2 linked regions of the Homo sapiens genome follow. The protein of the gene in region 1 purifies or fractionates together with the protein of each later gene. This does not show direct contact. Each region holds a gene or a part of one and is shown on either strand. Other genes may lie near its edges.

Region 1 (5,274 bases):
TTGTGAAATATAGAGGTGTATACATTGAAAAGAATACTCTCCACAAATGTTCACACATTAATGATTTGTAATAAGGCAACACTGAATCTGAGGAAAATCACTACCATCAAACTGGTCACCATCATACCAATTTATAGGTCTGACACTTCAGTTTTTTTAAATCAAAAAGGTAAGAATAACTAAGAGTGCATAGAATTCACTTTCCATTTCCCAGAGATGCTTGACAAAAATAATCAGCAAAAAATGTGAAACAGATAAAGAAAAGTTCCTGAATATGTATGTAGTTCATTGAAAAAAAAATTATACCTATTAATTCATGGCCGCCCCAAGGCAATTTCACTTGAGGGAATTAAGTGTTAAATTCACTCAAAAGTGTATTGTAGACTGATGCATAAACTATACAAAACAAAAAAAATCTCTCAGGAAAAATCTATAGGTTCTGGGATAAGAAATGTCTCTAATGATTAACTTATTCACAGGTCCTAATATGCTCTCTAATAATGTATGCCAACCTAGTTAACTATCACTCTCTTGTAATTTCCTTCTTCCAGTAGCATAAACTGTCCTTAAATGTTAGGATATTAGTAGAAAGAGCAAAGAGTTCGAGACAAATCTGCTTTACTTCTCATTTCCTACATACGGCAAACCACTCAGTCACCTCCAGAGTCTTTCTTTCTTTTTTTCTTCTTCCTTTTTTTTTTTTTCTGACAGGGTCTTGTCTGTCATCCAGGATAGAGTATAGTGGCATGATCATAGTCTACTGCATTCTTGAACTCTTGGGCTCAAGCAATCCTCCTGCCTCAGCCTCCCAAACACCTAGGACTACAGGTATGCACTACCATGCCTGGCTAATTTAAAAATTTTTTTTAGAGGTGGGATCTCACTGTCTTGCCCAGGTTTGTCCCAAACTCCTGGCCTCCAGTGATCTTCCCATTTCTGCCTCCCAAGGCACTGGGATTACAGGCATGAGCGATTGAACCCAGTTAGTTCTTTACAAATAAAATGGGGATTAATAACAACTTACATTATGCTGTTGACATATATATGACATCTTATCTAATAAGTGCTTAACATGGTATCTGGTAGGTGCTCCTTTGTTCTACTTATCCCTTCCAGAGATCTTCAGAAAACATCACCATAAAAAAAATAGCACCTTTATTAGGACTATACTGAAAATAGAGTTATGCTTAAGGCCACAGCTGTTCCATTTTTATATACATTTAAAATTCAGCTTACATTACATACACCATTATTTTATTTGCTGAAACCTTAATTCCCCTACCTCTCCTTTTTTTTTAACCTTTCTTTTAGGAAAACTCCAGCTTTAGATGTATTCTACCGTTTATTTCTTTTGTCTGTATTTACCAGAGTGGCAACGCACTGCTAGAGAAAGTCCCAAAGCTGAACAGATTAATACTGTCATAAAAGCATGAGCACCAAGTTCAAATTTATCCTTAAGACTGTTTGGGATTTCTAGGTTTCTCTGGAAAGTTCCTTCCACTCTTCTTGACTGCTTTGAATCTTCACTACTTTTCTCAAATTTTTGACCCATGTCAGTTTTAGCAGGCAACTACATTTCCTAATTTACAATGAAAGCTGAAGCCATAAAACAAGAATTTCTTTAATTTCCTGCTACTAAACCTACCAACATCCACATTCATTTCTTCTTGTAACATAAGGGGTGTCTCTTCTATCTCAGGCCAAACCTGTGCTCCCTATCTCCTGCTCCTCATAAACTTCACTAACAATTATCCCTTCTCTAATTTATTAACCACTTTCTAATCAACTGTATTCTTCCTATCTATATTTAAACATGCTCTTGTCTCTCCAGCCTTAAACATCTTTAACAATACATTTTTTAAGCTACCTTCCCTATTCGTTACATACCTCAGGTACAAAACAAGTTCTCATGATCTTAGGAAAAGATTTTGTTGCCATAGTATCAAGTAGCCCACTTAACTAATCAACTTAAGTCTACCACTTAACCAATCAACATTTCAGCTTAATAAATATGTTCCTGCAAGCCAACCCATCAGGGATATCCGCATTCAAAAAAGTCAGCTGAGTAGCTGAGTACGCCAATAAAAATGCTTCTATATGCCAACCAATCAACAGTCTCTCCCTGACATTGCTCCCTCCTACCTCTGAAGGTCTACCAATGCCAGATCTCAATGCTTCCCCAGGCCCTACATAAGATAAGCAGTTTGTTATACTTGAAACCATTGCCTGACCAGCATAGTCTTCCCTTAGGGAGGAATTAATCAAGTTTATCCCATCCTTTGAAACAGTCAAAGTTAAATTATTCCTACAGGTCTATACTAGCTCTCTTCACTTCCTCATCAAATCACTCACTGCACATAAACAAATTTCATTTAAGTACCTACAGACTAAAAGAAGTCCAATCCAACAGATTCTAGATCTCACTTTCCCCCTCAAGAGCATCTGTTAGTGTTAACCATTTGGTCTGTAATACACTTTCCTACTTTTCTCTTCATTCGATATGTCTTCTATTCAGGATCCTTCTCTTCAACATCTAAATATAGGAGTTTCTCAAGACCTAGTAGTAGGTATCTTCTCTTTTCACTGTATTTAGCCCACTCAACTGTTTTCTGGGGAGAATTAAGACCAAATACCCTAAGGCTTCCATTATGAGTATGAGTGAACTTCTGTGCATCTAGAATGTTAACAGCTACCATCTTTGACAGAATTGACAAAACCCCAGTTGAGAAAGGCTGCTCTATAACCTCATCTACATTTCACCTTATCTACATCCTGGTTTCAATTACCACCTCTATGTTAATGGATAAGATTTCTATGTGTAACTTAACTATCTTCTATGAACTCCAGACATAAAGTGCTGTTCAAAATGTCCAACAGGATGTTTCAACAGTAATGCAAACTCAACATGTTCAAGGATAATAGACAACACAATCTTTAAATCTACTCTGTATCTCAGACATCCAAATTTCTCTAGAATGTAAGTTCTCTGGAAACGTGAACTGTGTAAGTTCTCTGGAAACGTGAACTGTGTATTTACTATCATAACCTCAGCACCTAAAATGCTGCACTGTACAAAGGGTAAAGTCTAAGTTTTTATTGAATGAATAAATCAATCTAGCAGCTACAGCAAAAAATTATGTATCTGCAATTCATTAAACATACTTTCTGACATATAATAAATGCCTGAGAAAATGTACTATTGTCTTCAATAAACTTTTATTTTTATTTTTGTTTTTTTGAGAAAGAGTATTGCTCTGTCGCCCAGACTAGAGTGCAGTGGCGCAATCTCAGCTCACTGCAAATTCCACCTCCCTGGTTCAAGTGATTCTTGTGCCTCCGCCTCCTGAGTGGCTGGGATTACAGGCACCCACTACCACACCCAGCTACCCAGCTAATTTTTGTATTTTTAGTAGAGACGAGAGTTTCACCAGGTTGACCAGGCTGGTCTCAAACTCCTGGCCTCAAATGATCCACCTGCCTTGGCCTCTCAAAGTGCTGGGATTACAGGCAAGAACCAACGCACCCAGCCTGTCTTCAATAATTAAAAGGGAGAGAAAACATAACTCTTATGAGTATGAAGTGACACAGGGTAAGAAAATAAGAAGAAAAACAGTACAGAAAAACCACCACCAAAAAAAAAAAAAAAAAACTGTTCAAATAATCAGAGTTCTCCGAACATAGTGAAAGCTATCTAAGGGAGTAATAAAAACCACCTTGCTCATGAGAACTGAAAAGCTCTATATTTCTAGTTGTATATCTTATATGATGTTCTTCTCTGTGCCAAGAAAACAAATAATATACAATATAATCAATTTCTTCAAAAAGTGTATAATCTAGTTGGATAAAGGTAACAAATATTTTATGTGCTGAACATATGTCAAATTATGCCTGCAAATTAACTGAGAATTTTGGGATAAACTCAAATACGTTTATAAATTGGGATGCCGTTGAACAAAGAAAGGAGTGCTTCTAAAAAGATGCTTTTGCTGAATTAAAGGTAGTTTCTTACTTATTCAACTGAATGTTAACATCATTTGGAAGTTAAGAAAAGTTTCTTACCATTAAAACAGTCTTGGAGGAATCACCAGAGTATCTGATACTGAATACTCCCAACATCCCCAGAAAACAAAAGAAAGTAAATGTGGCCAGATTTCGAATATCTAGTAATGACTCTATAAGTGGTATTGTTCCCATGGTCCAATCACAGCAGAGCTCTGAAGGATTTAATAACAACCAAGCATTCACAGGAAGGAGGTAGTTAAAAGTTAGTTGCCTTGTAGGAGTTGGGCTTACAGCAGCTGGGTTATCAAACCTGTATAAAGGATTAAAAAAAAGATTACAAATAAAACTTTTAAAGTACAGAATTATTTACATAAGTAAAACACTAAACAATAAACATTTTATATATCATCTTATTAAACAGAAGACACAGACAAATGTTATGTGTACCTCAGACTCTTGCTAGAGTTCAAACTATCAAAACTTTATGAAACATCTACTTCAGAGAAGTGATATTTATGAAGGACTGTTTGAAAGGCAAGCAGGTCATCCATTTCTGTTTATTATTAGAATAATTCAGACATGCATCCTATAATATTACAACACTGCAAAAGTGTTCCATTAAACCTTTTGATTAAAAGTAGTAACAAAAAGTTGTATAAGATTTATGGTTGTATGTGTTGTATGAATCACTTTTGAAAACACTCACCAATGCTTTCCTACATGAGACATTTCTTTTAGAGCTAAATGCTAATTAAAAATTATGCTTCCTGGAAAAAATTCGTATATTTTTCTTCTGTCATGGAGAGAGAAAACCATATCACCTAGCTTCCTTCCCTCTTTTCTTTGACTCCTAGGAAGCTAAAAACCAAATTTCTAGTACAAAGTAGTAACTGTGTAGGCCTGTGTAAGAATTTGTGTTCTACTTTCTCTCTTAGTAAATACTAATATAAGCTTATATCATAGTTTATCTTTTCCCAGGCCACAACATATATACATTTCATTAGTTTAGTCTGTGTTCTAAATTATATTGGTTATAATATATAGTACTTAAAAGACCCATTTTCTCATTTTAAGATGAGTAAGCCAAGGAAAATCAACTACTGCCACTTATTTGACTTGATTTTCTGAAAACATATCAAATATTTGATAAAAATAAATACTATTTGAACAAATAATATCATTTCAAAATTTTCATACGGAATCTCACAACTTACATATTATTTTTCAGATAAAATAATAAATCTTGAGTCTGAACTTGAATTCTCAAAATAA
Region 2 (3,952 bases), on another chromosome or scaffold:
ATTCAGGTATTGCTGGACTGACGGGGGAAGCCAGAGAGTTAGATAAGCAGGAAAGAGTGGGGTGATATTGGAAATAGGAACACACTTTTTGAGCCACAGGGCCAGTCACTCTGTTGGGATTCTTTCATTTAATCCTCACAACAATCCTATGAGGTAGACGTTATCATTTCTCCATGCAACAGAGGAGGAAACCAAGACTCATAAGCCTCTACATGGTGGGGCCAGTGTGGCTCCCAGGCCCATGCTAGCCCTAACTATCTCCCAGGAGTCTTCAAACAGTTTCCTGGGCTACAGGAGCATTTGTAGGTGATTTTATACACACACACACAGACACACACAAACACATATACACACATATATACTTTTTTTGGTCAAAAACATTGAGTAACCTCCATTCAGCCTTAAACTGTTATCATGGCAACAGAATGGCAGTTTGCATTTGTGCTGAGAATTTTCTGACTCCATTTCGGCAAGGTATTATGCTAGGGTCAGCCAAGCAAAGATGCATCTGAAATTTACACACCCAAGCTGGAAAGCAGATGTCTCCTAAGAGAGGTCTGAGAAGGTGATGTGGTTTTCAGAGCTGGGGAAGCATCTAAGCAAGCGGAGGGAAGGACAAGGGGATGGCTTCTGTCTGAGTTATTTCCACAGCACCTTCCATACCTTTTCCATGAGTCAGACGGGCCATGCATTACTCAAAAGTATCTAGTTAAATCCTATTTAAAATAAAGGGCACAAGGCCAGTGCCCAGTGCTTGATATATTTTAAAATATGTGGAATGAATTAATGAATGTAAAAAACACCCAAGACAAACACAGGCTGCACATAACCTTATTTTAAGGTTTGTCTTTAAATCTCCTTTTGGGGAAAAGCATCAAAGGGCAGTTCAGGAAATGCCAAAGCATTAAGATGCATTCAGTTCCACTGTCAGAAAGACCTTCTGATGTACTTCCAAGAGAACATTACAAACAAACCTCACATCTATTCAAACACAAAAATGCATGTCCTCTTGTTCACCTCATTCATCCTTAATCCAAGACACTCTCCTTTCACCTGGACAAGTACCTATCAGCATTTGCTGTTTTAAAAACTGGCAACACCAGATAAGAAAGATGATCAGAAACACTGAGCGTCTCCTTGCTGGGTAAGGTAAATACCTTAGAAAGGTTAAAATGACTCATGCATTTCAAAATTCAAATTTTGAATCAATTAATTTGGACTTTTTCAAAAGAGGGATGCTTTATACTCTGTATCTTGCCTATGGCTATAATTTTGGTCATAAAGTTATGAATTAAATCGTTCTGTGTGTTCACATATACCCCAAAGTCCATATACAATGATTTTTCCATAAAAATCGTAAAATCATCTCTAAAATCCTACATACAGTAAAGACAAGACAGCAACTATTACTGAATGCTGTAAGGGTTATGAGAAAAGCAACAGCACCACAAATGGCTAACCTTGGGCATAAGTACAGGAGGCAGAAAGATTGTGTCCAAGATTTTCAAGAACCATAGAAAATCAAATTGAATGATTCCAGGTTTATACTTGGTCGACAAAAGAGCAACACTGATGCTAATCTATGTACAAAAATAATTTCATTCTCCCAGTTTATAAACATAAGCTTGAAAGAAATAACTTTCACAGTAATAAAAAAATAAAAGAAGTAACTGCTCTATGTGGTACAAACTAAAAAGGAATTCTCACCATTTATGTTTGAAGGCTTTAGAATGAAACCATGAGGAAGCTATCAGGAAGGCCATGCTAAAATTATCAAGAAATGCTCACTGCATCCTAAATTTTTCTTACCATTTTTTCTTCTTTGGCAGGTGGACTTCGAAGAAAAAAGCAGAGAGGGGCAAAAAGAATATCAATTATCCCAATAATTGTCATGAGCCATGGAAATCCAATTGCCTTTGCAATAGCACCACCAGCAGAAGGACCTTTCAGGAAACAGAGAATTAGATAAAGCTCTTCCAAATGTCTTGTAGACTGAAAGATGCAAAGATTTAAACAATTTTAGTAGACGTTATCCATTACGTATTGAGGTAAAAGGTTCTTATGAAAAGCCAATGTCCTTACCTATAGCATACCCCATACAAAATGCCACATCCGCAATGGCGTACACACTCCCATAGACGGACACGTGCCGCAGGTCTACGAGGTAGCCCATGATAGGCATCATTGACGAATCCACCATTCCTGAAGACAGTCAGGGAACACAGTGTATAGAAAACGGATGTAAACCCAAAATGGGCCGAATATCAGGGAGTGTGTCTTAAACTCACCACCCTGCCAGCTCTTCCCCTTCTGTCATCACCACCTGCAAGTCTTGGGGTGATACTAATCTTTGAGTAGAAAGAATGAAGGAAGCCTTTTCTGACCCCCAGAGGAGGTCAGGTTCCCCTCGTATACAGATGTTCTCTCACAGCATCATCTCAATTGTCATTCATTCTTCAATTCTTTGCTAAATGCCCAACTCTTCTGTTGGTTTTGTTCACCCATATCCCCAGCACTTGTACATATTAGGAAGCAGCAAGCACCATTTCAATGAAAGAAACTTTCCTCATGTGCCTGCCACTGACACATGTGGAGGGGAGGGCACCAACCTCTGAGTCCCTGCCAGTGTGTTCACAGACACTGGCTCACAGCAGCCAATCATGAGCATCCCCATTTTATAGATGAGGAAACCAATACTCAGAGAGGCGAGGCTTGACCACACTCACTGAGCCAGGGAGTCTGAGCCAGGAACTCTGAACACACACCATCTTTATGCTACCTGCTCCCCACTATTCAAGAGACGAGATTCTAATGCTGGTCGTGGTTGTTGCTGGGGTGTATGTCTGTATGTATATGTGTGTATTTATGAGTATGTATGTATATGTATATATGTATCTGTGTATGTCTATGTATATGTGTGTATGCATGTGTGTATGTGTATTATGTATATGTATATATGTATCTGTGTATGTATGTGTATATATGTGTGTACATGTGTTTGCATGTGTATGTGTCTGTGTATATGTGTTTGTGTATGTACTTGTATTTGTGTATGTGTGTGTATGTGTATGTGTGTAGGTGTGTGTGTATGTGTGTATATGTATGTGTGTATGTGTGCATATGTATGTGGGTGGGTGTTTGTATGTGTATGTGTATCTACGTGTATGTATGTATGCATATGTGTGTATGTATATTTGTGTATGTGTATGTGTTTATGTGGGGGGTGTATGTGTGTATGTGTGTGTGTATGCGTGTGTCAGTGTGTGTATGTGTGTTTGTGTGTATGAATGTGTGTGTTTGTGTATGAGTGTGTATGTGTATGTATGTGTGTGCATGTGTGTTTTAGCTTCTTTTAGTTCACACACATACACACAACACACACATACACACTCATACACACAACACACACATACATGGATACACATGCATACACACACACACACACATAAACATACATACACACACATAATTTCTGAGCAGGGCCAGATGATCTCTCGGACTCCTTGGAGTTCTGGGGCGTTCTGGTCCCCCCTATTATTCTCCACCTTGGAAACACCCATAGTCTAAGCGTGTGGCCCAGGTGTGACTGGCAGGAGGTGGGTCAGGCATGCAGGTGTGCTGAGTGGTGAGGGACAAGTGAACCAGAAAACAGCAAAGCAGGGAAGCACCAAAAGGATGCAGGCCAGGGGCCGTACAGTTAGCAACCTGCAACTCTGCCAGACCTGCAGAATGGCAAGGGGAGCCGCCAGAGGACTAGCACCCTCCCTAAAAAGATGGGCCAACCAGACAGTGGAGGACAAGGGGAGGCAAGGCAGAGGACAGGCAAACGGTCACCTGAGAAGGACCTAGAGTACCATACTGAGTTCTACCCCAGCCTCAGCAGCCTTCTACCATCTGTCCTCAGTGAAAGCCATGCTGTGCCACTGTACCACTCAAAGGTTGCGTTCCTGCT

Evidence for each region. The genes of interacting proteins can lie anywhere in the genome.
Region 2: the proteins of TMTC3 (region 1) and SLC18A2 purify together in Homo sapiens (co-immunoprecipitation; one large-scale study listed by IntAct). This does not show direct contact.

What each region holds. Positions count from the first base shown.
Region 1 is NC_000012.12:88,165,368-88,170,641, reverse strand, and holds part of TMTC3 (protein O-mannosyl-transferase TMTC3), read right to left. Parts: intron 4,313-5,274; coding exon 4,060-4,312; intron 1-4,059. UniProt on the Homo sapiens protein: Transfers mannosyl residues to the hydroxyl group of serine or threonine residues.
Region 2 is NC_000010.11:117,268,321-117,272,272, reverse strand, and holds part of SLC18A2 (synaptic vesicular amine transporter), read right to left. Parts: intron 2,203-3,952; coding exon 2,083-2,202; intron 1,944-2,082; coding exon 1,810-1,943; intron 1-1,809. UniProt on the Homo sapiens protein: Electrogenic antiporter that exchanges one cationic monoamine with two intravesicular protons across the membrane of secretory and synaptic vesicles.